Linked DNA regions of Homo sapiens: regions 2 and 3 are each linked to region 1. The links come from fine-mapping of genetic effects on gene expression. A gene starts in region 1. Each other region holds a variant in brackets. All regions are shown on one strand. Distances are from middle to middle.

The links. PIP is the estimated chance that this variant, and not a neighbour inherited with it, causes the effect. A credible set is the group of variants that fine-mapping cannot tell apart.
Region 2: its variant is the best candidate, but not a certain one, in a credible set for the expression of QSER1 in prefrontal cortex (CommonMind, PIP 0.51).
Region 3: its variant is the best candidate, but not a certain one, in a credible set for the expression of QSER1 in whole blood (INTERVAL, PIP 0.61).

Annotation. Positions count from the first base shown.
Region 1 is chr11:32,890,372-32,894,615 of GRCh38, forward strand. QSER1 (glutamine and serine rich 1) reads left to right here and starts at 2,440. Exons shown (of 13, transcript NM_001076786.3): 1 at 2,440-2,963. The coding sequence starts at 2,755. RefSeq lists an enhancer at 791-1,365 and silencers at 2,113-2,732, 2,813-3,212.
Region 2 is chr11:32,970,043-32,974,286 of GRCh38, forward strand. QSER1 (glutamine and serine rich 1) reads left to right here. Exons shown (of 13, transcript NM_001076786.3): 11 at 3,355-3,507. All of the region lies in intron 2 of LOC105376615 (a long non-coding RNA gene), which reads right to left. Among named protein-coding and RNA genes, the nearest start is that of DEPDC7, 44 kb to the right of the region's middle. The variant CA/C (reference allele first, on the strand shown) is at 2,020.
Region 3 is chr11:32,988,069-32,992,312 of GRCh38, forward strand. The region is part of intron 2 of LOC105376615 (a long non-coding RNA gene); the gene reads right to left. Among named protein-coding and RNA genes, the nearest start is that of DEPDC7, 26 kb to the right of the region's middle. The variant C/T (reference allele first, on the strand shown) is at 2,106.

The sequences.
Region 1 (4,244 bases):
TCTCTACTAAAAATACAAAAAAATTAGCTGGGCGTGGTGGCATGCGCCTGTATTCCCAGCTACTCAGGAGGCTGAGGCAGGAGAATCGCTTGAATCCGGGAGGCGGAGGTTGCAGTGAGACGAGATCACCCCACTGCACTCAAGCCTGGGCGACAGAGCGAGACTGTCTGAAAAAACGAACAAACAAAAACACGGGACCAACAATGCTCATTCTAGAGTTTGACATTACCTAGATCAGACTTGAAGCAGCTTGGTTACGAATCATTTGAGAGATCCCGAAACGTTCACAGAGCTGGAAGTATATTTTCAGTAGGGAAGAAGACATTCTTCAGATAGTATCATCAAGTGTACAAAATTTTTAAAAGATTTATTTACATATATCAAAGCATCACATTGTACCCCATAAATGTATGCAATTATGATTTGTCAATTAAAAATAGTATTGATAAAAAATGTAATGATGTTATTTGTAGACATGTAACATTTGAAAATAAATATAATTGTACTGATTTAGAGTGAACTAAGGAAATTTCATTTAAATGGCAAAGGAACATATGGTGACAGAGTAATATTACTAAAAATACTCACTAGAATTTTCCCTTAATATCTTTCCCTGATTTATGTGACATAAACAAACTACATAATGGTGTGAGGGACTATAAAGGTTTTATTGCCACTTGTTTGGTATTGCCTGCGTAACTCACTCTGAGTGCCAGTTGTGGGTATCTCAAACTAAGTGTCATAAAACATTTATAGCATGCCACTCCATTTCCTATACTTTTCATAGAGACAAAACTTTAGCGCTCACAAAAGTACTTATAAATATAATAGCTAGTTGTGAAAACTTTTTAATTTAGATCCCACATTTCCAGTTTGCAGGAAGAAAAATAAATGTAATGAAGATTTACGTTACTTCTCTGCATGAACTCAGATTAGTTCGCAAATTCCTTTTCAAAGAAAAACCACTTTTCAAAGATATCCTCAGTAAATGCATTTTGTAATTAACATAAAATTGGCAAAGTCGCTGTGCCTACACGTTTGAATTCATGTGTAAATAACGACTACTCACTTCCTTGCTTCCCCACCCGGGGACCAGGCTCCAAGCATCACAGGTGCAGAAAGACTTGCAAAAAGGAATGAATAGGAACAAAAGGATGTAGGCGCCAGGAGGAAAACAGGATCTTCCAGAACAAAATTAATCTCGCAAGGCATAGCAGATCCAACACCAGATTATTACCAAAGTTTAAACTTTTTCAATGGTCATCAGAGATAGCGTATCAAGTTTATTAGGTCTTTCACTACGGCTGATTTGCTTAAACCTTTATGTTATGCTTATCTTGAGGGATAGATTTCTGTGCTAAGCACATAATAGGTGTTAAACCAATATTGATTTTTAAAAGGAGGTGGTCATTAAATAGAAATTTTACTGTTATTTTAACCTTTAAATTTATGGCCCAAGGGCCAAACGATGATTTGTACGATTCCCTAGTTTCAATACTTGTGAGTTATTACAAGAAATACAACTCTGCTATGCAACAGAAGAACCGCAAATAGTCATTAAATTACCGCACACCAAGCAGCTTGGAGATCAGATAGGAAATGTTTGGGGAGAGAGTCCTGCTGAAGTTCCAAGTCTCAAACAAAACCCCTCAACATCAGAGTGCATGGTGAGTTTAAATTTATTGTAATTAAAGTCATCCAGATGGTAGTTGGATTAATCAATGAAGAGGTGGTTATCTATCTTGGGATAGAAGATTCTGAAACCCAGAGCGAGAAAAATCCCCAAGGTGGGGGTGGGGACAGTTAATAAGAGCCCTTGGGAAAGGCCCTTTCAGCGAGGATTGGAAAATAATACGTTTGAATTTGAATCTCTTTGAATATAAATCTCCCCTAACAGCAGGAAAAGGGTCCTCTAGCCCAGCAAGCTTTGGGGAGGGAGTAAGCGGAACTGCAAAAGAGCTCGCTCAGCTGTTTCTGGATTGGGGCGCAGAGAAAGAAATCGCGATCAGGGAACTGAGTACTGGAGTCCCTCAAAATAACCCGAAGGGTCAAATAGTGAGCTCCAAGCAAAGCGTTGACCCGGCTACCCCTGAGCAGCGCCCTACGCTGGGTTCCACTCCACTTCCCCTCCCCCGCGCGGGGCGATAGCCAGGCGCGGTCCCTTCCCACGCGGGCCGCGGCGAGTGCGGACAGCTCCCTTCCGGGCTGCGGAAGGCGGGAAGTCTGCGGTTCGCGGGCTCCGGCTGGCGGGCGCCCCTCGGAGTCCCTGAAGTCGGCCGGGCCCCGCAGGACCCGCGCCTTCTCGGCCCCAACTGTCCCTCGCGAAGCGTCCTGCGGTGGCGGAGGCCTCGCGGCCGCCCGCCAGCCCCGCGAGCGGCAAGCGCGGGGCTCAGAGGGGAGGCGGGGCAAGGCCGCGGGGCGGAGGGGGGCGGGAGGTGCATCCTGGGAAATCCACCAACATGGGGCGCAGCGGCCGCCGCCGCCGCCGCCGTCGCCGCGAGTCCCGGCCGCGGGTGCCTCCGCTTCCCTGACGCCCAGCTGGGGCCTCGCCGCCCGCCGCGGCCCGGGTCTTTGCGGCCCAGACTCGCCAGCGCGCCCTTCTCCCGCCTGCTCGCCGGGGCCATGTGAGGGGGCAGCTCCCTCCACCGCCGCCGCCCCCTCTTCCTCCCCCGCCCCCTCTCCCTGCCCGCCCCCGTCACACGGAGCCCTGGAGGATCCCCCGCTGCTGCCCGCCCTCCCTACGCCACCCCCACGATGGACAGGAACTACGCGACCTCGGGCTTCACCGAGCCGCCGCCGCCGCCGCCGCCCGCGCCCCCCGCCGCCCCCGTCCCCGCCAGCGCCGCTGCGCAGCCCCCCGCCCCAGCCTGGGCGTACGAACCCCGAGCCGCCGCCGCCGCCGCCAGCAGCAGCTGCAGCAGTGGCAGCTGCAGTAGCGGCAGCAGCCCCAGCCTCAAGGCCAGGTAGGGAGGGTGGGCGGCGGGGTCGCGGTGGACCAGGAAAGGCCGGGGATGCGTTTGGGGCCTTCGCTCGGTTGCAGCGCCGCCCAGAGGTCTGGGCCGGGCGGGGAGCCCTCCGCTCGCCCTCGGCCAGCTCGGGGGAGGCGGCTGATGACTCCTACGGGGTGGTCGCGGGTAGGTGGGGGCGCCCGGTGCAGGATTCGCGCCTGGGGACGGCGGGTGAAGGAATAGCTGGGCGGGAGTCGTGGGGCTCCGTCACCTCTTGGGTCCTGGGCTCTCACATGGTGAAGTTTGGGCTCGTGGCTGAACTCGGGATCTGTGAGACCCAGGATTGGCGCCGGGGGTCCGAAGGGGGCGCCGGAGAGTTTGGGGCAGTGGCGATCCATTGTATTGGAACCTGGGTGGCCGACAATGCGGTCTTGGGGACTCCGGCGTGTGAGGGTTGCGGAGGCGGGAGAGGAAGAGTCGCGGAACCGCGTCCCGGAGACACTGGGGGGCCCGGGAGGGCTGGGCTACGGGAGAATCCCCGGGGCGCAGGGCAGAAGAGGGGGCCCGGCAGGGCGCGAACGCGGCTCCAGGGCCGGGTGACATATGTTTGCGCTGGTGGCCAAGATTTAGGCGATTTTTCTTCCACGCGTTCAAAGTTGCTCTTAGGTTTCCTCCCCTTTTAACAACAGCAGGAAGTAAGGAATCTTTCTTTGCCTTCTATGCCTCGGGGTGACTGAGAGTTGGGAAGAAATGGGGCGGGGGTTGGGGTGGGGGTAGTGAAGGCCGTAAAGGTTGAAGAACCAAAGCATGCTTCTCCATCTCGGCCTTTAAGGTCCGGGTGCATTATGTAGCGTGGGGTTCAAGAGTTCATCTTGCATGACCAAGGGAATCTAAAATTTTGACTCCTACTTGATATTTAAGCTCGCGGGAAATGTGTAGTAGTGCCACACTGTGAAACGGTCCCATTTGAATGATAACTGGAAGGCGTGGTCTGGTTTGGAGAATTGGTGAGCGGGGTGTTTTAAAGCCACCTCTCCCGAACAATACAGAATCTGGTAGGTGCAGCTTCTGATTACATGGACCAGGGAATCCTGGGTTGCTAATGACTTCATCCTCAGCTACCAACAGGAAGCTTCGTGGCTTTATGATCTCATCAGATTTCTTCATTATTTTTCACGACAGAAGTGAACTTTTGTTTTAAGTTTATACATTACCGTGTTCCAGGTTATCTTCTTTGTTTTTACGAAAGTTCTACGTTCATGATTGAGCAAATAAGTGTGAAGGGTAGCTGGTCTT
Region 2 (4,244 bases), 80 kb after region 1:
AGAATCACAGAATGATTACTCCGTAGCCTTTCTTATTCAAAGTATAATATCACATCAAGAATCATTTGGTTATATCTACCTTAGGGAACATTTTTTAATTGATGGTAACAATATTATACATTTGTATAACTTGTTCACATCCCTGTTTTATGTGAACTCCATGTAAAAGTGAGTATTGACTTCATTTCAATTAGGTGAAAACTGAGGCCATTAGATTGCATTCAAAATTAAATGACACAAAACTATCATAGTAGTCATGTATTCTTCACTGCCATGTATTCGCAGGAAGAAAAAAAATTTAGAAGCTAGTAAGAAATCCAGTACTAAGAATTTGGTCTCCTGACTCCTAGTCCAGTTTTTGTTTGTTCGTTTTTGTTTTTGAGATGGAGTCTTGTTCTTTCGCCGAGGCTGGAGTCTAGTGGTGTGATCTCAGCCCACTGCCATCTCCACCTCCTGAGTTCAAGAGATTCTCCTGCCTCAGCCTCCCAAGTAGCTGGGTCCACAAGCATGCACCACCACATCTGGCTAATTTTTGTGTTTTCAGTAGAGACAGGGTTTCACCATGTTGGTCAGGCTGGTCTCGAACTCCTGACTTCAAGTGATCCGCCTACTTCCGCCTCCCAAAGTGCTGGGATTAATAGGCATGAGCCACGGCACCCAGCCCTAGCCCAGTGTTTTCTGCTTAACTGCTGCCTTTAAATAAATGAAATATTCTCTTGTGAAATACTATATTTTGTGGAGACAAGGGAACATTTTTAGATAGGTGTTTTCTAAAGATTTACTAAATCTTAAAAATTACCAGGTTTGGCTAATCACTGTTGAAATGTCAAACCAGTTCTCTAACAAGATTTCTAATTCTGTTATTAGTTATTAATTTTGATAATTGTCATATAAAGCAATTTGCTTTTTTTTTTTTTTTTTTTTTTTTGAGACAGACTCTCGCTCTGTCTCCTAGGCTGAAGTGCAGTGGCGCGATCTCCGCCCACTGCAACCTCCTCCTCTCCTGCCTCAGTCTCTGGAGTGGCTGGGATGGCCTGGCTAATTTTTGTATTTTTAGTAGAGACAGGATTTCACCATGTTGGCCAGGCTGGTCTTGAACTCCTGACTTCAAGTGATCTGCCTGCCTCTGCCTCCCAAAGTGCTGGGATTACAGGTGTAATCCATGCCCAGCCTTAGCAATTTGCATTTCAAAGCAAAATTACATAATATTAAGAGTTAGACTGATCTGAAGTAAAATATTACAAATAGTAGAGAAAGAAAGATTTTTCTGTTCTTTAGAAATAATTAGTGTGCTTTCCTATGTTGATCTTGGTGATGTTAGGAGTCCTGAAGCTTTTTCAAGGTAATGATGTTCTGCCTTTTTCTGAAATCTGTGTACTTCAGATCATCTTAAGCATTTTGTGGTCATTGGAAAGATTTAAATTTTCTTCTTTCATCTCCACTGACTTAGTGTGTGTTGTTTCCAAATTTAGAATCTTTAGACTTTAAATTCTATTTGTTGCAAATAATAATTCTGGATCCAAAAATTGTCAAGGTGCATGTTTTAAATAGAAAACACCAGAGTACATGATAAGTGCACAAATAATCTGAGAAAGGAACGAAGCTCGAACGTGATGGTAGCTCACTGTGGTAGAAAATGCCAAAAGTGTTATTGTTTCTATCAAATGAAATTTAGTGCCCTTCTACACTTATACTAAGAAAAATTTAGGTTGCCTGTTTTTAAAAAGGTACCGTTTTCGGGACTGGCGCGGTGGCTCACGCCTGAAATCCCAGCACTTTGGGAGGCCGAGGTGGGCGGATCATGAGGTCAGGAGATCGAGACCATCCTGGCTAACACAGAGAAACCCCATCTCTACTAAAAATACAAAAAATTAGCCGGGCGTGGTGTCAGGCGCCTGTAGTCCCAGCTACTCGGGAGGCTGAGGCAGGAGAATGGCGTGAACCCAGGAGGCAGAGCTTGCAGTGAGCCGAGATCACGCCACTGCACTCTAGCCTGGATGACAGAGCAAGACTCCATCT[CA/C]AAAAAAAAAAAAAACAAAACAGTACTGTTTTCAGGGCCCCAATACCAGGTGCTTGGAAACAATAGATGAGTTTGGAGAAGAGTGGCTTTAAAGGTTGTAACTGTTTATAAAACACTTGCGCTTATCGAATTTGGACTGCATTCTGAATCATAAATATAATAGGAGGACTTCAACATTTTTAGTGTCAAAATAATAAATGATGGTAGGAGCTCGATTTAATTTTTATAAAGTCATAATCAAACTAGTTAAATGTTGCCACAAGTATCATTCAGTTATTGTTTGTAGCTTTTCAGTCAGGCAGAATGATTTGCCAAGTAGGTAAGGGCATAAATAGGCCAGTGGCTTATTTATTTATTTATTTATTTATTTATTTATTTATTTATTTATTTAGAGATAGAGTCTCTCTCTGTCACCCAGACTGGAGTGCAGTGGCATGATATTAGCTCAGTACAACCTCTGCCTCCCGAGTTCAAGCGATTCTCTTACCTCAGCCTCCTGAGTAGTTGGGATTACAGGTGTGCACCACCTCACCCAGCTAATTTTTGTATTTTTAGTAGAGACAAGGTTTTGCCATGTTGGTCAGGCTGGTCTCGAACTCCTGGCCTCAAGTAATTTGCCCACCTTGGCCTCCCAAAGTGCTGGGATTACAGGCATGAGCCACCATTCCTGGCCACCAGTGGCTTTTAAAGGATGGAGTGGAATTGGTTTTGCCACATAACCACTGTCAAAAAACCCATCATGCTCTGTTTTAGGATCTTATCTTACAAGTACTTGTCTTGCAGTCAAAATAAGCAAGAGAAGAGTGAAGCCAGAGAAGCACTACAGTGCCGCTTCTCCTCTGTCGTCATCTTCACCAGAGGCAGATGACTTCTTTATAGCAAGGCCCAGCCACATTTCACGGGGCAAGCAGTGGTTTAAGTGGTAGGGCTTTAGTGAAACATGTATGTCTTCCTTTCTCCTGCCTTGAAGCCAGAGACATTACTAGAAAGAACTCTTGGCCCTGTTAAGGGTTCCCAGTGTGGTGTGCTGTTGCTTAAATAAGCAGGTCATAGAGTTGGCTCAGATTTAAGGGATTTAAGGGAAATAGATTACATATCCAATAGGAAGGGCTGCAAAGAGCTTATGACCATGTTTAAACCCCAACCTGTGTATGTATATGTATGCATATCCCATCAGTACACACACACCTCTCTGCAAATAGGTGTTTGTGTGCACACACACCTCTCTGCAAATAGGTGTTTGTGTGCACACACACTTCTAAATTTTAGATAGCTAGAAGTAGTTTAGGTTAGTTTTCTTCTGGTGTCAGTTATTTTGCTTCATTGTTTTCCAGAATGCTTTGGAAAGTTTTCCTGAACTAACAATAATTACTCGAGATTCTAAAGCAAAGAGTGGAGGAACTGCTATTTCTAAAATCAAAATGAATGGCAAAGCCTATAATAAGAAAACTCTAAGGACTTCTAAAACAACCACCAAATCTGCACAAGTAAGTGTAATTGATTATTAATGTAACTATACCTTTTCCAATTGTTAATACAATTCCTACTTAAAACATTGAAACAAGCAAATATTTTACTATGTTGTCATTAAGTGTGAAGGTTTTTCAGGTAGGAATAAGCGTCACTGGCCTGAGGAACAGGGACGCATGGTGGTTTATTGTTTTTCTATAGCACAGTATCAGGCATATAATATGTGCTCACAAATTTCTTAAATTGACTAATATGGAAGAAATCATCTCGTGCTCATGTTTATATATTTGTAGGTAGTTTTTCATTTTTTAAATTGCATATATTATGTACAAAATGTTTTGAAATGTGTGTACATTGTGAAATGGCTAATTCAAACTCATTAACATATGCATTACTTGTAATATAGGTATATTTTTAATTGTATATGCATGCACATAGATAAGTAAGTGTGCAGAACACATTCCATAAAAAGATGAAATGTTTATTTCATATCTGCAAAGTCATTAAAATTGGAATTTGTTCATCTTCAAACATAGTATAAATTGTTATAACCTTTTCAGAAAACAGTTTGGCAACATATCAACTTCACAGCAAAAATGTATTCAGGGCTAAGCACAATGGCTCAAGCCTATAATCCCAGCACTTTGGGAGGCTGAGGCAGGAGGATCACTTGAGTCCAGGTGTTCGAGACCAGTCTTGGCAACAAAGCAAGGCCCCATGTCTACCCTGGGGGGAGAAAAAAAAATTAGCCAGG
Region 3 (4,244 bases), 98 kb after region 1:
GCCTGAGCTCCACCTCCTGTCAGATCAGTCACGGCGTTAGATTCTCATAGGAGCAGAACCCTACTGTGAACCACGCGTGCAAGGGATCTAGAATCTTATGCTCCTTAGGAGAATCTAACTAATGCCTAATGATCTGAGGTGGAATAGTTTCATGCCAAAACCATCACCCCCACTCCTGGTCTGTGGAAAGATTTTCTTCCATGAAACTGGTCCCTGGTGCCAAAAAGGCTGGGGACTGCTGCCATAAATGACAGCAGGACCCCAGATGAATTTCTATTAAATCATCTGCTAAATACCAGAAGTAATGACCCTATCAATATTGCAGTCTGTTCAAAATGTAGCAAGACGAGCCACAGACAAAACCCCTCAGACACCAAGTTAAAGAAGGAAGGGCTTTATTCGGCCAGGAGCATCGGCAAAACTCACATCTCAAAAACCGAGCTTCCATAGTGAGCAATTCCTGTCCCTTTTAAGGGCTTACAGCTCTAAGGGGGTCCACATGAGAGGGTCGTGATCGATTGAGCAAGCAGTGGGTACATGACTGGGGGCTGCATGCACCGGTAATCAGACAGAACAGAACAGGACAGGGATTTTCACAATGATTTTCCATACAATGTCTGAAATCTATAGATAACACAAGTAGTTAGGTCAGGGGTTGATTTTTAACTACCAGGCCCAGGGCGTGGTGCTGCGCTATCTGCCTGTGGATTCCATTTCTACCTTTTAGTTTTTACTTCTTCTTTCTTTGGAGGAAGAAATTGGGCATAAGACAATATGAGGGGTGGTCTCCTCCCTTAAAAACACATTACAATGCTATAGTAATTAAAACAGTGTGGTGCTGACATAAAGACAAATGCACAGACCAATGGAACAGAATAGAATGCCCAGAAATAATCCTTCATGTATATGGTCAACTGAATTTTCTTCTGTTCTTTTGCACAAATAATTTTTGACAAGAGTGCCACAACCACACTATATGGAAAGGACAGTGTCTTCAACAAATGGTGCTGATAGAACAATATCCACCCATGAAAGTTGGAAGTTGGAACCTCACCTTACACTATATAAGATATTTTATCTCAAAATGGATTAAAGACCTAAATATAAGACCTAAAACTATAAAACTCTTAGAAGAAGAAAACATAGGAGGAAAGTTTCATGACATTGTACTTGGCAATGATTTCTTGGATATGACACCAAAGGCACAGGCAATGAAAGTGAAAATAGATACATGGGACTACATCAAACTCAAAAACTCCTGCATACCAAAGGAAAGAACAAAGTGCAAGGCAACTTACAGAATTAAAGAAAATAATTACAAATTACACATCTAATAAAAGGTTAATATCCAGAATACATAAAGAACTCCTACAACTCAAAAACAAAAAAAAAGTAGCCCATTTAAAAAACAAGCAAAGCACCTGAACACGTATTTCTCCAAAAAAGATATACAAATACAAACAAGCATATGAATTAATGCTCATCATCACCAACCATTAAAGAAATGCAATTCAAAATTACAACAAGGTATCACCTCACACCCATTAGGATGGCCATGGGAAGGGAAGGGATGGGAAGGGGAGGGGAGAGGAGGGGAGTGGAGGGGAGGGGAGTGGAGGGAAGGGAGTAGTGGCTGATGTCTGTAATTCCAGCATTTTGGGAGGCCGAGGCAGGAGGATCACTTGAGCCCAGGAATTTGAGACCAGCTTGGGAAACACAGTGAGACTCTATATATTTTTTAAAAATTGTATAAAGAAAAAAAAATAAGTGTTGGTGCATATGTGGAAAAACTGGAACACTTGTGCATTGCTGGTGGCAATGTAAAATGGTTCAGTCACCATGGAAAATCAGTAAGGATATTCCCCAACAAACTAAACATAGAATTACCTTATGATCCAGCAATCTCACTTCTGGATACATATCCAAAAGATATGAAAGCAGGGTCTAGAGATATTTGCATACCCATATTAATTACATTATTCACAATTACAAAAATGCCTAAATGCCCATTGACAGATGAACAGATAAAGAAAATATGGTATATCTATACAATGGAATATTATTCAGACTTAAAAATACAAGGAAATCCTGCCACATATTACAAC[C/T]TGGATTAACCTTGAGGACATTATGCTAAGTGAAATAAGCCAGTAACATAAAGATAAATACTGTATGATTCCACTTATAGGAGGTATATAGAGTAGTCAAAATCATAGAAACAGAATTGTGGTTCCTAGAGGCTGGGAGAGGGGAAAAAAGGAGTTGTGGGATGGATACAGACTTTCAGTTTTGCAAAATAAAAAGTTTCTAGAGATCTGGTACACAAGAAAGTGAAAAATAGTTAACACCACTGAACCGTATACTTAAAATAGTTAAACAGCCAGCCTGGGCAACATAGGGAGACCCCCATCTCTACAAAAAGAAAAGAAAGAAGAAAAAATTAGCCCAGCATGTTGGTTCATGCCTGTGGTCTACGCTACTTGAGAGGCTGAGGAGGGAGAATTGCTTGGGCCCAGGAGATTGAGGCTGCAGTGAGCCATGATCATGTGGTTTCTCTCCAGCCTGGTGACAGAGTGAGCCCCTGTCTAAAATAAATAAATAAATAAATAAATAAATAAATAAATAAATAAATAAATAAAGATTAAGAGGGTAAAAGTCTATACTATGTGTTTTTTACCAAAATTAATGGCCATCAGTTATAAAAGGTCTTGAGTTTGATATATTGATAAATTAAATTCTTTGGAAATTTCCTCTAATTCTTTTACCTTGATTTTAAAAGTGAGGATACCCTCCCTATCCACAGTTGACTGAGCTAGAAATAATAGAAATCATTTTTGATACTTTCATTCTCTGACCACATCTAATCATCCACCTAGTTCTATACATTCACTGAGCACCATACACATCAATTAATAGGTGCAGAAGAAATACGCATAGAAGGAAGGAAGGAAGAAATCTGTTCAACTTTCCCTTCCCCACCTCCATCTAACTTCCCTTCAGTACAAACTAATAGTACTTTTTAGACCAAGTCCTTATCACCTGTCTCTTTCATGCTTCACTGGTCTCCTTGCCCTCAGATTCTTTTTTTTTTTTTTTTTAAGACAAGGTCTCACTCTGTCACCCAGGCTGGAGTGCAATGGCACGATCTCGGCTCACTGCAACCTCCACCTCCTGGGTTCAAGCGATTCTTCTGCCTCAGCCTGTAGCTGGGACTATAGGCACATGCCACGACGCCCAGCTAATTTTTGTATTTTTAGAAGAGACGGGGTTTCACCATATTGGCCAGGCTGGTCTCGAACTCCTGACCTTGTGATCTGCCTGCCTTGGCCTCCCAACATGCTGGGATTACAGGCGTGAGCCACCGCATCTGGCTTGCCCCCAGATTCGTAATCCTCCAATCTAATCTGCACACTGTCACCAGAATTTGTCTCCTTGATTACCAGACTGGTCATGATGTGGCCCACCTTATATTTCCTACCTAGTTTCCCATTAGATCTCCCATCTCTATAATTATAGACACAACTCTGAAGCTACACAAGTTTTTTTCTTTGTTTTTGCTGAGCACGCCATTTTAAGCATGCTTTCATGCTTTTATTGACCATATTTCTTCTGCCTACCAAGAAGTCTTCCTCCTCCCCTTCCTCTTCTATCCAGTAAACATCCTTTAACACTCAAGTTTAACATAGCTCCATAGAGAAGACTACTATTTTCCCTCAGACAGTCTGAGAAACTCCTCCTGTGATCCCAAATAATTCTGAGCATCCTGTTTTCTATCACTTCTCACATGGCCATGGAATTGTTTTTAGACATCTTAGCTGTTCCCACCATATGGAAATTGAAAACAGGTAATAGTGTCCTATTTCTCTTTTTATACCTCAATCCTAGCACACTGTTAAGTACATATTAGTTGCCTGATAATGTTTATTTACTTTTAACCTATCCATGTCTTTGAATCTAACCTGTATCTTTTGCAGACAGTATATTGTTGGATCATGCTTTTTTTTAAGCCATTCTGCCAATCTCTGTCTTTTGAGTAGAGTTTTTAATCCATTCATGTTTAATGTCATTATAATAAAGTAGGGTTTCTTTCTGACATTTTGCTATTTGTTTTCTAAAGGTTTATGTCTTTTTTCTTTTTCCATTTTCCATTATTGCCTTTTTTGTGCTAAATAGATTTTCTAGTGTACCATCTTAATTCCCTGAGCTTTATGTTCAGTTTTGAGACAAGGTGTCAATCTGTCACCCAG